2 separate regions of the Homo sapiens genome follow, and region 1 is linked to region 2. The links come from fine-mapping of genetic effects on gene expression. A gene starts in region 2. The other region holds a variant in brackets. All regions are shown on one strand. Distances are from middle to middle.

Region 1 (8,339 bases), 26 kb after region 2:
GCCTGGGCAACAAGAGCGAAACTGCATCCTCTGCCTCCCGGTCTCAAAAAAAAAAAATATTTAACGTTTTATTTTCATATCATTTGAAACCTATAGAAAAATTGCAAAAATAGTGTTAGAAATTCTCATATACTCTTTACCCAAATTTGCCAAATGTTTACATTTTTCCTGTTTGCTTTGTTCTTGCTGATCACCCAGATACCACCAGGAACATACCTGTAGCCAGAGACAGTTGCTTGTAGCTTTCTGCAGCAAAGAAGCCCACATTTCAAGATAATTGTGGGGTGTCTTGGTAAGAGGTGTTTAGAAAGGGCTGGTTATAGGGTTTCACATAACATGCTAGATACTATTAGATATTATACTGGCTAGGCATGGTGGCTTATGTCTGTAATTGTAGCACTTTGGGAGGCCGAGGCAGGTGGATCACTTGAGGCCAGGAGTTCAAGACCAGCCTGGCCAACATGGAGAAACCCCATCTCTACTAAAAATACAAAAATTAGCTGATTTGTCCACTGTGAAGTTACTTTTTTAAAATTTGAGGGGGCGTGCGCCTGTAATCCCAGCTATTAGGGAGGCTGACGCATAAGAATCATTTGAACCTGGGAGGCAGAGGCTGCAGTGAGCTGAGATGGCGCCCCTGCACTCTGATCTGGATGACAGAGTGAGACTCTGTCTCAAAAAAATAATTAAATATTATATTAAATAATATTGTTATCTATTACATATCACATCTGTTAAAAAGCTAATAATAGTAGTTGTAGTGTCATTTATTAGATAGTGTTGGATACCATATTACATAACGTTGTTATCTAATCTGCAGCTTCCATATTTAAATTTATTCAGTTTCTTCTTTTGGTCCTTATAACTATCCCTTGCCCCACTTTTTACCTGTAACCCCATTCAAAGTCCAATTTTATGCATTGTCTTTATTGTCACATTTCTATACTTTTGTTTAATCTAGAAGGATTCCACAGCCTTTGTCTTTTATATGCATGGTTTTTTGAAGAGTATAGGCAAGTTGTTTTGCAGAAAGACATTCATTTGGGGTTTGTCTGGTAAATTTCATGTTTACGTTTAGAGTATGCATGATTGGCAGGGATACCATAGTAGTGGTGAGATGTCCTTTTCATTGCAACCTAACAGTGTCCAAATGATGTTGGTTTGTCCCTTCACTGGTGATCTCAACTTTGTTCACTTGGCCAAGATGAAGTCTTTCAGATTTGTCCACTGTGAAGTTACTTTTTTTAAATTTTGAAAATAATAAAGTTCCTTATGGGGAGATACATGATTAGTGGACATTCTACTGTAAAGAAGAGTTTCCATTTCTCCCCCATTTATTCATTCCTTCATTCAACTATAAATATTCTATTGATATGGACTCAGAATTCAGTCTTACTGATTTCAATGACATGTAGATTAACAATTATTTTTTCCAATTCTATCAAGATGTATTTCACATATAGCTTTCACCCATTTCAGGCATGGAACTCCGTGATTTTTAGGAATTTTGTGAAGTGGAATAACCATGATCATGATTCAGTTTAGATCATTTTTATCTCCCAGTTGGACTCCTTGTGCCCATTTATAGTTAAACCTCATTCTCATCTCAAATGTGAAGCAACCACTAATCTACTTTCTCTATGATACATTTGCCTATTCTGAACATTTCATATAAATGCGATCACACAGTCCATGGGTTTTTGTGACTGCCTTCTTTCATTTAACATAATGTTTCCAGGGTTCATGCATGTTGTAGCATGAGTCAATATTTCATTTCTTTAAATTTCCAAGTAAGATTTCATTGTATGGATAGGCGACAATTTGTCCATTTACCCATAGGAAGGCATTTTGGTTGTGTGCAATTTTGGGTTATTATGAATAATGCCCCTGTGAACATTCAAGTGCTAATTCACAACACATGTTCATACTGTTGGGTGGCATCACTGACCACCCCTTCATGTCTCTTTTTTTTTTTTTGCCTTCCATGGCATGTTTCAGGCACAATTCTGTCTTCTCTTGAACTGCATAACTGAGAACTCTGCAAATTCCCCAAAGAAGGAGGAAAAATGACCATGTTCAAGGTGAGTAAGTCTGGTCTCTTTTGCTGTTCAGATTCTGTTTTGCTACTTAAGATTGTCACATGTTTTTCTCGGTCTTGGGAAGACTCAAGGAGAACAACAGTTATTTGTGCACCTGTTGTGTGCCAGATGCTTCCTTGTTTCTTTTGTGTTGAATTTGCGTTTGGATTTGATTTTGTTTACTTTTACCATTATTTATGTTATGAGTAGAAATTTAGTGGGAAGGAACAATTCTCCCATTTCACTACATCTTTTCTCACTAATTAGGCATTTTTATTTTCTCATGCTATTCCTCATGTATATTCATAACTGTATTTGTATTGATACTTATCTAATTTAAATTGTGTTCTTTGTGTTTAATATTATGTAATATTCATTATTTATGGTTGCATCATGTTCCCATTGAATTGATGCTCCTTTTTTTTTTTTTTTCCTCGAGACAGAGCCTTGCTCTGTTGCCCAGACTGGAGTGTGGTGGCGCAATCTCGGCTCACTGCAACCTCCGCCTCCCGGGTTCAAGCGATTCTCCTGCCCCAGCCTCTCAAGTAGCTGGGATTACAGGCGCTCACCACCACACTTGGCTAATATATGTATTTTTAGTAGAGACGGGGTTTCACCATGTTGGCCAGGCTGGTCTTGAACTCCCGGCCTCAAGTGGTCTGCCTGCCTCAGCCTCCCAAAGTGCTGGGATTACAGGTGTGCACCACTGCACCTGCCGATGTTTCTTTTTAACTACTTTATACTCACAGGCACTAGGAGCTCAGTTTTGAAAGAGTACTTTTGACATGTGCCACGTTGGTTGTTTTGTAGATAAAATATCCATATGTGGCATGGCACAGCAGGCTGTAACTGTGGCTTCACACAAGGATTTCTGGAGATTTTCACATAGGAAGAGCTAGCTTTTGTTTTCCCCATGCTTAAGTCATGCATTGTGTGTATGTTATTTACTGGTCTTTTCTTATTCCTTTATGTATTAAGGAGTTTGACCAAAATGCAGCATCCTGGGCTGCACATATATCGGTTTCGGTGAATCTTGCCAGTTGCTCCAGCAACATTTAGCAATTCAGTCTCAACTTTGTTTGATAATGCCCAGGGTTCTCGTACTTGAACCCTGGATGTAATCATTTTTCTGTCTTTTTTTTTTTTTTTTTTTTTTTTAGTTTTTTAGTTTTGGTAGCTTTAGTTTCAAATGTCCATGATATCAGAAGATTCTCTAGTCACTGTGTTCTATTCCTTTGTTTGTTCCTCAGAACAGCTGAATGATGCAGTTCTCAGCCTCATCTTCCTCTTAAATATGTGAAATATGAGAAACCTGCTGAGGTTCAGAGAGGAAACCTAGGGTCGGCATGTTAGCTATTTTGCTAAATTGAAAGAGAGAGAGAAGAAGAAAGAGGATTCTCCATTGAAGGACCTATGCCTTCTGGTATGGGTGTCTGGAGTGCCCTCTTGAGTGATGACAACCACTGGTGACATAGCTCCTCCCTGACCCCTCCTCGGGGGTCCTCTTCTCTTCCTGTTGTGCCACCTCCTCAGGTGCACCTAGTACTCCAGGCACCAAAGGACAGTGATTGCTACACTCACTATAGAAAATCTTTAAATTCCTAATGGCAAAGATGGCTTATAGAGTGTTACCAGGGAATATAACAGCCTAAGGTGAAAATATTTACCACTTTGATATCTAAAAAAGACATAATCCAAAATAAGAATCTTATGTACAGAATGGAGAAAAAAATTCAAAGGAATATGAATAAAGGACATTAATACATTAATTGGTAAATTTTAGAGAAGAAATAGAAGTGGCCAATACATATTTGAAAAGGTGATAGTATTATTTATATTCAAATACATGGGATTAATAAGGTGAATTCTCTCTAATGAGATTATCAAAATCACAGGAAATTTGATAATCTGCTTTTGGCTATTTTAAGAAAAACCAGGGTAATATATCCCCTTGAAAGATTTTGGAGTTTGAGAAAAAATTGAGATCTGACATATATGATCACAATTTTAAACATTCTTATTTTTTGACACTTTAATTTTCATTTGAAATTATTGTATTATAGTTTATTCTTATTCTTTAGAGACAGAGTTTTGCTCTGTTGCCTCGGATAGAGTACAGTGATGTAAGTGTAGCCCACTGCAGCCTTGAACCCCTGGGGTCCAGATCTTCCTGCCCCAGCCTCCCAAGTAGCTAGGACTACGGGCACGCACCACGATGCCTGGCTAGTTTTAAAAATTTATAAAGTTGGTGTCTTGCTGTGTTGCCTGGTCTGGTCTTGAACTCTTGAATTCAAGCAATCCCCCCACCTTAGCCTCTTAAAGCACTGGGATTACAGGTGTGAATCACTGCACCTGGTTTGAAATTATTAAATTAAACTAAATTATTATTTTATTTTATTTCTTTTTTGAAATAGAGTCTTGCTGTGTTGCCCAGGCTGGAGTGCAGTGGCGCAATCTTGGCTCACTACAACCTCCGCCTCCTGGGTTCAAACGATTCTTCTGTATCAGCCTCCCAAGTGTCTGGGATTATAGTCACGTGCCACCATGCTCGGCTAATTTTTGTATATTTTGTAGAGACGGAGTTTTGCTATGTTGCCAAGGCTGGTCTCGAACTCCAGAGGTCAAATGATTTGCTTGTCTCGGCCTCCAAAAGTGCTGGGATTACAGGCATGAGCCACCATACCTGGCCAAAATTATTTTCAATGATCAGACGGGAGAGTAAGGTCCACATACATGATTTTCTTTGCAGGATTGGTATTAATGAAAACTACATAAAATTAAATATTCATTATTTAGAATAAAGATAGATCATCAGTTCCCTGTAATAGTATGCAGACATGAAATGAAATAGATAACTATAATGAAAGTTATAATAAAAAATCCAAAGAAATACGAATAAAGGACATTACCAGCCAGGTGCGGTGGCTCACGCCCATATTCCCAGCACTTTGCGGGGCTGAGGTGGGCAGATCACCTGAGGTCGGGAGTTTGAGACCAGCCTGACCAACATGGAGAAACCCCATCTCCACCGGGTGTGGTGGCTCATGCCTGTAATCCCAGCACTTTGGGAGGCC[A/G]AGGCAGGCGGATCACGAGGTGAGGAGATCGAGACCATCCTGGCTAACATGATGCAACCCTGTCTCTACTAAAAATACAAAACATTAGCCGGGTGTGGTGGTGGGCGCCTGTAGTCCCAGCTACTCGGGAGGCTGAGGCAGGAGAATGGTGTGAACCCAGGAGGCGGAGCTTGCGTTAGCTGAGATTGCACCACTGCACTCCAGCCTGGGGACAGAGTGAGACTCCATCTCAAAAAAAACAAAACAAAACAAAACAAAAAACAGCAAAAAAAGAGAAACCCCATCTCTACTAAAAATACAAAACTAGCTGGGCATGGTGGCGCATGCTTGTAATCCCAGCTATTCAGGAGGCTGGGGCAGGAGAATTGCTTGAACTGGGGAGGTGGAGGTTGCCGTGAGCTGAGTTTGCGCCATTGCACTCCAGCCTGGGCAACAAGAGCGAAACTCCGTCTCAAAAAAAAGACAAAAAGGTAATAAAATTAACTAATGTTAATTAAATACCTAGTCTGTGCCACAGACTTTCCCCATTTATATTCTCTTGCTTATTCCTGGAGAAAACTGATGTGACAGTCTTTATACAGAAAGGAAACGAATGCATGTAGGCAAACTTATCCAAGGTCACGTGGCTGGGAAGGCAAAGGCACAGAGCCTTGGGATTGAGCCTTGTGAGTGAGCACACACACTCAGTGTGATCATAGGCACACTGGCTCCAGATCATGACATTCAGTGCTGCAATTAATATATGTAGTTTGCGTCTTGAATACAGAGGACCCACTCCATGGCTGTCCCACACAGGTCACTGTAAACTTGTTAGTTTGGCAGATATTAAAAAAAAAATGGGCCGGGTGTGGTGGCTCATGCCTGTAATCCCAGCGCTTTGGGAGGCCGAGGCCGGCAAATCGCCTGAGGTCGGGAGTTCGTGACCAGCCTGGCCAACATGGTCTCTACTAAAAATACAAAATTAGCTGGGCATGGTGGCAGGTGCCTATAATCCCAGCTATTCAGGAGGCTGAGGCAGGAGAATTGCTTGAATCCAGGAGGCAGGGGTTGCAGTGAGCTGAAATCGCACCACTGCACTCCAGCCTGGGCGACAGAGTGAGACTCTGTCTCAAAAAATAAAAAGAAAGAAAGAAAAATGATTACATCCAGGGTTCAAGTACGAGAACCCTGGGCATTGTCAAACAAAGTTAAGACTGAATTGCTAAATGTTGCTGGAGCAACTGGCAAGATTCATTGAAACCTATATATGTGCAGCCCAGGATGCTGCATTTAGAGTCCTAGAGGGTTACTTACAAGGAGACTTAATAAGTGCACAAAGTAAACCTATGGGACTTTTTCATCATTGCACTTCTGGTGGAGCTCTGGAAAATCAGTGTCATTGCGAGGATACAGACAGAATGAATGGGAAATCTGTATGTTGACCTACATCTTTCAAGATCCACAGCAACTTCTCACCCATCCCCTTCACCTGCTCATTGCCACCCTTCTCCCAGGAATCACTGGTCATGAGATTGAGATTGCATACGTTTGTTGTTGTAGGAGGCAGTGACCTTCAAGGATGTGGCTGTGGTCTTCACCGAGGAGGAGCTGGGGCTGCTGGACGTTTCCCAGAGGAAGCTGTATCGAGATGTCATGCTGGAGAACTTCAGAAACCTGCTATCAGTGGGTGAGCACAGGCACCCTCTGTAATGGAACATCAGGCCCCAGGAATGGCTTTGTATCCTAGGGTGTTTGTGTTAGTTTGTTCTTATGCTGCTATGAAGAAATACCCAAGACTGGGTAATTTATAAAGAAAAGACATTTCATTGACTCACAGTTCTGCATGGCTGGTAAAGCCTCAGGAAACTTACAGTCATGGTGGAAAGCCGATGGGAAGAAAGGCACCTTTTTCATATTGCAGCAGGAAGAAGTGCCGAGCAAAGGGGAAAAGGCCCCTTATAAAACCATCAGATAGGGCCGGGCGCGGTGGCTCATGCCTGTAATCCCAGCACTTTGGGAGGCCAAGGAGGGCAGATCACGAGGTTGGGAGATGGAGACCATTCTGGCTAACACGGTGAAACCCCGTCTCTACTAAAAATACAAAAAAAATTGCCGGGCGTGGTGGCGGGCGTCTGTAGTCCCAGCTACTCAGGAGGCTGAGGCGGGTAAATGGCGTGAACCTGGGAGGCGGAGCTTGCAGTGAGCCGAGATCGCATCACTGCACTCCAGCCTGGGCGACAGAGCGAGACTCCGTCTCAAAAAAAAACAAAAACAAAAACAAAAACAAAAAACATAAATAAAATAAAACCATCAGATCTCGTGAGAACTCATCCACTATCACGAGAACAGCATGGAGGAAACTGCCCCCATGATTTAATTACCTCCCACCAGCTCCCTCTTATGACATGTGGGGATTATGGGAACTACAATTCAAGATGAGATTTGGGGACACCGCCAAACCATATCAGTGTTCAAGTTCGAGTGTGCAGTGAGAACCTAAATTTCTAGTAAATTTTACCTAAGATGTATTGGGATTAAGCATGTGACTTTGTTCACAGGGCATCAACTTTCCCACCGAGATACTTTTCACTTCCAAAGAGAAGAAAAGTTTTGGATCATGGAGACAGCAACCCAAAGAGAAGGGAATTCAGGTAAGAACCAAGCAACGATGCATCCTTGTACGTGACCCTTCCATCTGTTTTACTTCTGTCCATTGCCCAACTCCATTGCCCTGGTATAAATGGCCAAACCTGTTTCCTGGATTCTTACCTCCTTCCTGCTGGTTGTCCTGCTCCCCCACCCCCTCTTCCCACCCTGACATCTGTTTTCCTCATAGCAGCCAAAGTGATCCTTAGGGAATGTAAGTCAGATTGCCATTCCTCAGCTTAAAAGCCTTTATGGCTTCTTATTTGTGTTAATGTTACAACTGCTTTAAGTGCCTTTTAGAGACCCTTGATCTGCTCTTCATCCCCTACTGCCTCTCTGACTACATCTCCATTTTCCAGCCACGTTGTACTCCCTGCTGTTTCTCCATCCTGCCAAGGACACTGTATTGCCTGTTGCTGTCACCCAGTGACCACACACTTAGCAGATTAAACAACAAACAATTATCTTTCTGTTCTTCAGATCTGAAGTCTGACACATCTCACTGGACAAAAATCAGGGTGTCCCTAGGGCTTTGTTCCTGTCTAGATGTTCTTGGGGAGAA
Region 2 (8,339 bases):
TCCACCATTTGAGGACATTGCAACAAGGTGCCACCTATGAACCAGAAAGCAGCCCCACTTCAGACATAAAATCTCCCAGTGCCTTGATTGTGAGGAATAAGTTTCTGTTGCTTATAAGCCAGCTAGCCCATGGTTTTTTGTGACTAAGAATATTGGTATTGAGAAGTGGGATTGCTGTTGTAACAAATATCTAAAAATGTGGAAGTATCTTTGTGACTGTATAATGGGTAGAGGCTGGGAGACTTCTGAAATGCATGCTAGGAAAAACCTACATTGTCATGATTGGACTGTTAAAGACAATTCTGGTTAGGGCTCAGAAGGACAGAATGAGAGCTAGAGAAAGCATCAGTCTTCTTAGAGTAAACCTATGTGGTCACGATCAGAATGTTGATAGAAATATGGACAGTAAAGGCCATTATGATGAGACCTCAGTCAGAAATGTGGAACATGTTACTGGAAACTGAAGAAAGCGGGGTTCTTGTTATAAAGGGGTAAATAATTTGGCTGAATTATATTCAGGTCCTAGTGTTTTTTGGTAGGTAGAACTTGTGAGCAATGTAATTGAATATTTAGCTGACACTATTTCTTAACAATGTGTTGAAGTTGCATCTTGAATAATCTTGACTACCTATAGTAAAATGTAGAAAGTGAGAAGTGACTGAAAGCCGGAATTACTAATTAAAAGGTAAAGAGAACTAAATACTTTTAAAATTTGCAGCTTATCTACTTTGGAAAACATGCAAAACCCTGTCCTGGAGAAAACAAGGGTGTGGCTGAACAACTGATTTATGAGATTAGTATGGATTGACCATGTTGACTCAAACCAGGACCTATTGTCCAAGACAATGGAAGAATGACCCCAGAAGTATTTCACAGATCTTGGAGGCTGCTCCTCCCATCAGAGGCCCAGAGCACAGGGACGTGGGCAACAGCAGGGACCTTTGATGCCAGGTGCCGCCTAACATCTCAGGCTCAGCTCCTTGCATACACTACCACTGAGAGTATCAATAAATTTTATCTTTTGTGAATGCAGAGTAGAGTAAGGATACAGCTGTAATTGGTATAGGAATAGCCATCACTCAATTTTCAAGGGGGCATTGAAAATTTGTTTGGCACTATGTGGTTGCTCAGTCACCTTAATTTTTGTCCAAACCAAACTGTGAAACGTCAGCCAGGTGCAGTGGCTCACACCTGTAATCCCAGCACTTTGGGAGGCCAAGGTGGGCAGATCACGAGGTCAGGAGATTGAGACCATCCTGGCTAACACAGTGAAACCCCCATCTCTACTAAAAATACAAAAAATTAGCCAGGCGTAGTGGCACATGCCTGTAGTCCCAGCTACTTGGGAGGCTGAGGCAGGAGAATCACTTGAACCCAGGAAGCAGAGGTTGCAGTGAGCCGAGATCGCGCACTGCACTCTGGCCTGGGCAAAACAGCAAGACTCTGTATCAAAAAAAAATTGTGAACAGTCTTTTTTTAATTTTTTTTTATTTTTTTTTACTTTAGGAAAATGGATACAGGACATTAGACTCTTTTTAAAAAGAAAAATATAGGTCGACAGGTCAATGTATGTTTATTTGGGAGGACAAAAAATATGGTTTATCTTCAAAAGAGAATTTTAGATGAATTGTTTCCTGATTTAGCTTTATACTATTATTAATGTCTTTCAACTAACATATGCCAGTTTTCAAATTGTTTCCTATAATGAAGATATTTTAACCAAGAAATGGAAAGGAAGAAACTCTTAATAATAAATCATGCTCCGTCACCTATAGAATCTTCTCCAGTTTTATGGCATTGAATCAGACATTGGGTGTCAGATTGATACCAATGCCAAGCTCTTCAACAGTTATACTTGCTTTAAGATACTTAGCAATTCACTAACTTCTCTGAAATTTAGCGTTTCTACATCTAAAGTAGAAATATTACTACCATGAGAATGTTAAATGTAGCTTTTCCATGAGGACACAGCTTCTCCATTGGTGGCTGGAATTTTGTTTTTCCTGTCAAACCAGTGGTACCACAGCATCTGGACTAGGGCTGTAACTGAGAACCACCATTTTTCTAAGAGACAGCTTATTTATTTCTCTCTCTTTTCTCATTCCCTTAGTTCCCCACTTCCTATGTAGCCCTTTAAAAATGCAAATATAGACTTTTACCTCCCCTTCACCAGACACTTCCTACAGGGAAAGTTCATCTAACTGTGTGCTCCAAGCCAGAACTCTCCTCCAGAATTAACAGTCAATTTACAAACTAAAGCATGCTGGCCTCTGAACTCTCACTCACCAGGAGGTTGCCTGAAGAGACAACAGTTGAAAGCGTGCCTGCTACTCTCTCCCTTCTGGTTACAACTTATTTCTGCCCATGAAAAAGCCAGCTCAACTGCCTAATAGATAAGGCACCAAGCCAGCACACAGACCCCTTCCCTCTTCCTCCCCTACCTTTTAAAAGTGCCTGCTTTCTGCTCTAAAAGCCAAGCCGTGCACTTAAAGACAACACCTGTGCTACTTCCCCTACGCTAGCTCTAGAATAAATCACTTTCTTTATACCAGATCTCCCTCTTGTTAACTGGACGTTGCAAACGGGAAGCCACTGATCTACTTTTCAGTTACAGGGGCTGATGCTTTCCTGGCTTCTCATTGCCCCTCCCAACCCATTCTACCTGGCTCATTCTTTAAACCAGTGGTCCCCAACCGTTTTAGCACCATGGACCGGTTTTGTGGAAGACAATTTTTCCACGGACTGGGGAATGGTTTCGGGATGAAACTGTTCCACCTCAGCCATTAGATTCTCATAAGGAGCGCCTGACCTAGATCCTTCGCACGCACAGTTCACAATAGGATCCGCGCTCCTATGAGAATGTAATGCTGGGCTGATCTCACAGGAGGTGGAGCTCAGGCCATAATGCTCCCTCACCTGCCGCTCACTTCCTGCTGTGCCGCCCGGTTCCTAACAGTCAGTGGACCGGTACAGGTCTGTGGCCCTGGAGTTGGATATCCTTGCTTTAAACCCTGAGCCTCCTTTCAGCCATCTGACGGCTCAACAGTCACTCTATCTAGCTCCTTGAATATTGTATCTCCTCGCTTGTTCCCTGTCCAAGAACACTCCTGTCAATCATGGGAGACATTTAGACTTCATAAATTCTTTCTATTCAATATTTTCGCTCGAGGACTCTGGGAAGGACAACTGTCAGGGTAACAGTCTGCATTCCCCACCAGGAACCTGGGGCTATGAAATTCGTTCCCCGTGGGTGTTGCGGGAAGTGTAATCGAGGAGCACCATGTAGTCGCAACACTTGAGCCTAAAGGGTGAGGTGATGGACATTTTCCTTTTGCATCTGAGGCTCTGCAGTCCAGACACCTTGCGGGATTCCTGATACTTCAGCTCAGGTAGGCGTTTCCGGAGAATTCTGGGAAGAGTAGTCCATTTTACGGGAAGTGTAGTCCACTGGCTCGTGGAACACTGGGTATTTTGGCTCTGGCAGGTGAACCGTTGAATTCTGGGAACGATAGTCCAGACACTCTGCGGAGTCCCGGGCCCTTTGGCTCAGGGGGGCGGGTCCGGGGAATTCTGGGGAGTGGAGTCCAGACACTCTGGCGCAGAGAGGACACTTCCGGTCTCCTAGTCTGAGGTTCCTGCTTTAATGACCGGGGTAGTTTGAGCCATTTCTGCGTCTTGCAGGACATTTTGAACGAACCCCCTTTGCTTGAGGCTCGCAACCACCCGATGATCGATGATCGTCTCAGGGGAAAAGAAGCCTTGGCGAAGAGCAGAGGTTTAGAGGTGCGAGGGCGGGGAGGGTGTTTATTGTTCCCGTCAGCGGAGCCTTCTGGCGTCGGGGGGCTTTGCTCGCCTCCCGGGGGGTGGGATTGGGGTGGCCTTGTGTGCCCTGCTCTGAGGGTTTCCAGGACTTTGACCTCGCTCAGTCCGCCTCCCTACGTATGCAGTGTGTACACTCTTTCTCGCAGTGTGATGTGGAATGTTAATGTCTCTGTACTTCCCATTGCTGTTCTTTAAAATGGTGCTTATAGGGTCATCCTAATAGAATTGTTTTGCGAATTGAAAGAGATAATACAAATGAAAGCCTTAAAGTTGTCCCTGTCACTTGGTGAGTGGTCTCTTGTTGCCTGATATTTTAAAACGTTTGATATCATTTCAAAGCTATAGAAAAATTGCAAAAACAGTATAAGAAATTCTCATATACCCTTTACCCAAATTTGCCAAGTGTTTACATTTTTCCTGTTTGCTTTGTTGATGACCATCAACCAAATACCACCAGGAACATACCTGTAACCAGAGACAGCTGATTGGTAGCTTTCTGCAGCAAGGAAGCCCACATACCACGGTAATTGTGGGGTGTCTTGGTAAGAGGCATTTAGGAAGGGCTGGTTATAGGGTTTCACATAACATGGTAGATAATATTGGATATTATGTTAAATAATACTGTTACCGATTACATGTCAGATAGATGTGTTAAAAGAATACTAGTATTTGTAGTGTACTTACTAGATAGTGTTGGATAGCATATTACCTAGCATCATGTTATCTAATCTGCAGTTCCATATACGAATTTGTTAAATTTTTCATTTAAAGTCCTTATGACTGTCCTCTGCCCCACCCTTCACCTATTCAAAGTCCAGTTTATGCGTTGTCTTTAGCTGTCACATTTCCATAGTTGTTCATTTGGAGTTTGATATTGAAGGGGGCCTGCCTCTCCACACCTGTGGGTGTTTCTCACAAGGTGGAAATGAGAAACTGAGAAAAGAAATAAGACACAGACACAAAGTATAGAGGAAGAAAAGTGGGCCCAGGGGACCGGCGCTCAGCAAATGAGGACCTGTACCGGCACTGGTCTCTGAGTTCCCTCAGTATTTATTGATCACTATCTCTACTATCTTGGTGAGGGGGATGTGGAAGGACTATAGGGTAATGGTGGGGAGAGGGTCAGCCGGAAAACATGTGAGCAAAGGACTCTGTCATAAATAAGTTTAAGGAAAGGAGTTGTGCCTGGATGTGCACATAGGCCAGATTTATGTGTGACTTTACACAAACATCTCAGTGCAGTAAAGACCAGTATTGCCGCCAGTATGTCTCACCTCCAGCCATAAGGCGGTTTTCTCCTATCTCAGTAAATAGAATGTACGATTGGGTTTTATACCGAGACATTCCATTCCCAGGGATGAGCAGGAGACAGATGCCTTCCTCTTACCTCAACTGCAAAGAGGCCTTCCTCTTTCACTAATCCTCCTCAGCACAGACCCCTTATGGGTGTCGGGCTGGGGGACGGTCAGGTCTTTCCCTTCCCACGAGGCCATCTCTCAGGCTGTCTCAGTGGGTGGAAACCTTGGACAATGCCCAGGCTTTCTTGGGCAGAGGTCCCTGTGGCCTTCCGCAGTGTATGGTGTCCCTGGTTAATCGAGACTGGAGAATGGCAATGACTTTTACCAAGCATACTGCCTGCAAACACATTTTTACCAAAGCACATCCTGCACAGCCCTAAATCCATTAAACCTTGAGTCAATACAACACATGTTTCTGCGAGCACAGGGTTGGGGCTAGGGTTACAGATTAACAGCATCTCAAGGCAGAAGAATTTTTCTTAGTACAGATCAAAATGGAGTTTCTCATGTCTTCCTTTTTCTACGTAGACACAGTAACAGCCTGATCTCTTTTTCTTTCCCCTACAGATATATTTCACATTTAGGTTTAGATTATACATTGTTGGTGGGGATTCCACAGGAGTGTTAAGATGCCCTTTTCTTTTTTTTTTTTTTTGTTTGAGACAGTTTTGCTCTTGTCACCCAGGCTGGGGTACAATGGTGCAATAGGATGCCCTTTTCATTGTAACATAACAAGGTCCAAGTGATGTTCGTTTGTCCCTTCATTGGTGATCTCAGCTTTGTCACTGGCCAAGAAGATGTCTTTCAGATTTTTCCACTCTTATGTTACTTTTTTTTAAATTATGAAGTTTCTTATGGGAAAATACATTATTAGTGGGCATTTTCTTGTAAAAAAGAGCTTCCATTTCTCCTCTATTGGTTCATTGATTTGTTCAACTATAAATATTCTATCAATGTGGACTCAGAATCCAGTCTTATTGATTCTAATGATATGTGCATTAACAGTTTTTTTTTTAAACTCTAGGTTTATTTTAGTTATAGCATTCACCCATTTCAGGTATACAAGTCAGTTCAGTGGTCTTTAGGAACTTTGAAGTGGGGTAATCATCATCATAATTCAGCCGAGATCACTTTCATCCCCCAGTTGGACTCCTCATGCCCATTTACTTTGAACCTCATTCTCAACTCAAATTTAGAACAACTGCTAACCTACTTTCTATTCTATTCTACTTGTCTATTCCAGACATTTCATATAAATGGAATCGTAGGGTCTGTGGGTTTTTGTGACTTGCTTCTTTCATTTACTGTAATGTTTTCAAGGTTCACGGGTGTTGTTGCATGGGTCAGTATTTCATTCCTTTACATTTCCAAATAAGATTCCATTGTATGAATATGCCACAATTTTTCTGTCCCTTTACCTGTAGGAGAGCTTTTTGGTTGTGTGCAATTTGGGGTTAGTATGAATAATGCTGCTGTGAGCGTTCATGTGCTAATTGACAATATGAGTCCTTGTTGGTGGGTGACATCCCTGGCCACCCTTTCATGTCTCTTTTTCTGTCTTCATGGCACTTTCCAGGCACAATTCTGCTTTCCCTGGAACTGTGTCATTCAGGACTCTGCAAATTCCCTAAAGTAGGAGGAAAAATGACCATGTCCAAGGTAAGTAGGACTTGCCTCTCTTACTGTTAAAATTCCATCTCACTACTCAGATTGTTGTGTGTTTTTCTCTGCCCTGGGAAGACTCAAGGAGAACAGCAGGACTTTGAGGATCTCTTGTCACCTGGCTAATTTTTGTAGTATTAGTGGAGATGGGGTTTCATCATGTTGGCCAGGCTTGTATCGAACTTCTGACCTCAAGTGATCTGCCCGCCTCGGCCTCCCAAAGTGCTGGGATTATAGGCGTGAGCCACCGCACCCAGCCAGAAAGCCTTCATTTAAAATGGCTAGTAATACTGGGCTGGGTGCAGTGGCTCACACTGGTAATCCCAGCACTTTGGGAGGCTGAGGCAGGCGGATCACCTGAGGTCAGGAGTTCGAGACCAGTCTGACCAACATGGAGAAACCCCATCTCTACTAAAAATACAAAATTAACTGGGCATGGTGGTACATGCCTGTAATCCCAGCTACTCGGTAGGCTGAAGCACGAGAATCACTTCAAACCGGGAGGCGGAGGTTGCAGTGAGCTGAGATTGGGCCATTGCACTCCAGCCTGGGCAACAAGAGTGAAACTCTGTCTCAAAAAAGAAAACAAAACAAAAAAAGTCTAGTAATACTGAAGATTGGCCAGTCACTTGTGTACTGTCACTCATTTACTTCTCAAAGCAGCAGAATGAGGAGGTTCCTGATCTCTTCTCCTAAACTCATGAAATATGAGAAACCTGCTCAAAATCAGAGGCAATCAAGGAACAGGAATGTTAGCCATTCTGCTCAAGTGAAAGAGAGAGACGAGAAGAAAGAAAAATTCTCCACTGAGGGTCTGGTGACCTGTTGTGTGGATGTCTGGAGTGCTCCCTTGAGTGATGACATCCATAGGTGGCGCTGCTTCTCCCTGTCCTGCGTTGGTGTGACCTCTTCTTTTCCAGACCTGGCACCTACTCAGGTGTACTCATTGTTCCAAGTACCCAAGGACAGTGATTACCACAGCTGTTCTTATCTCCAAATTCCTCCTTATGGCACAAGATACCTCACACATTTTTTCTTTGGCTGGGCGCGGTGGCTCACACCTGTAATCCCAGCACTTTTTCGGAGGCTGAGGCAGGTGGATCACTAGGTCAGGAGATAGAGACCATCCTGGCTAATATGGTGAAACCCCGTCTGTACTAAAAATACAAAAAAAAAAAAAAAAAAAAAATTAGCCGGGCGTGGTGCGGGCGCCTGTAGTCCCAGCTACTCGGCAGGCTGAGGCAGGAGAATGGCGTGAACCCAGGAGGCGGAGCTTGCAGTGAGCCGAGATCGCGCCACTGCACTCCAGCCTGAGTGACAGAGTGAGACTCTGTCTCAAAAAAAAAAAAAAAATCCCTAAATTCCTCCTTATGGCATAAAATGCCTCACCATTTTTTTTTTTTTTTTTTTTTTTTTTGAGATAGAGTCTCTCTCTGTTGCCTAGGCTGGAGTACAGTGTTGCGATCTCAGCTCACTGCCAGCTCTGCCTCCCGGGTTTACGCCGTTCTCCTGCCTCAGCCTCCCGAGTAGCTGGGACTACAGGCGCCCGCCACCACA

Evidence for each region. PIP is the estimated chance that this variant, and not a neighbour inherited with it, causes the effect.
Region 1: its variant is fine-mapped to the expression of ZNF223 in whole blood (TOPMed, PIP above 0.99).

What each region holds. Positions count from the first base shown.
Region 1 is chr19:44,074,324-44,082,662 of GRCh38, forward strand. It overlaps ZNF284 (zinc finger protein 284), which reads left to right. Exons shown (of 5, transcript NM_001037813.4): 2 at 1,999-2,081; 3 at 6,692-6,818; 4 at 7,690-7,782. The coding sequence starts at 2,067. Among named protein-coding and RNA genes, the nearest start is that of ZNF284, 6.3 kb to the left of the region's middle. The variant A/G (reference allele first, on the strand shown) is at 5,153.
Region 2 is chr19:44,048,413-44,056,751 of GRCh38, forward strand. It overlaps ZNF223 (zinc finger protein 223), which reads left to right and starts at 3,624. Exons shown (of 5, transcript NM_013361.6): 1 at 3,624-3,783; 2 at 6,697-6,779. The coding sequence starts at 6,765. RefSeq lists enhancers at 3,290-3,791, 3,611-3,850 and a silencer at 3,511-3,570.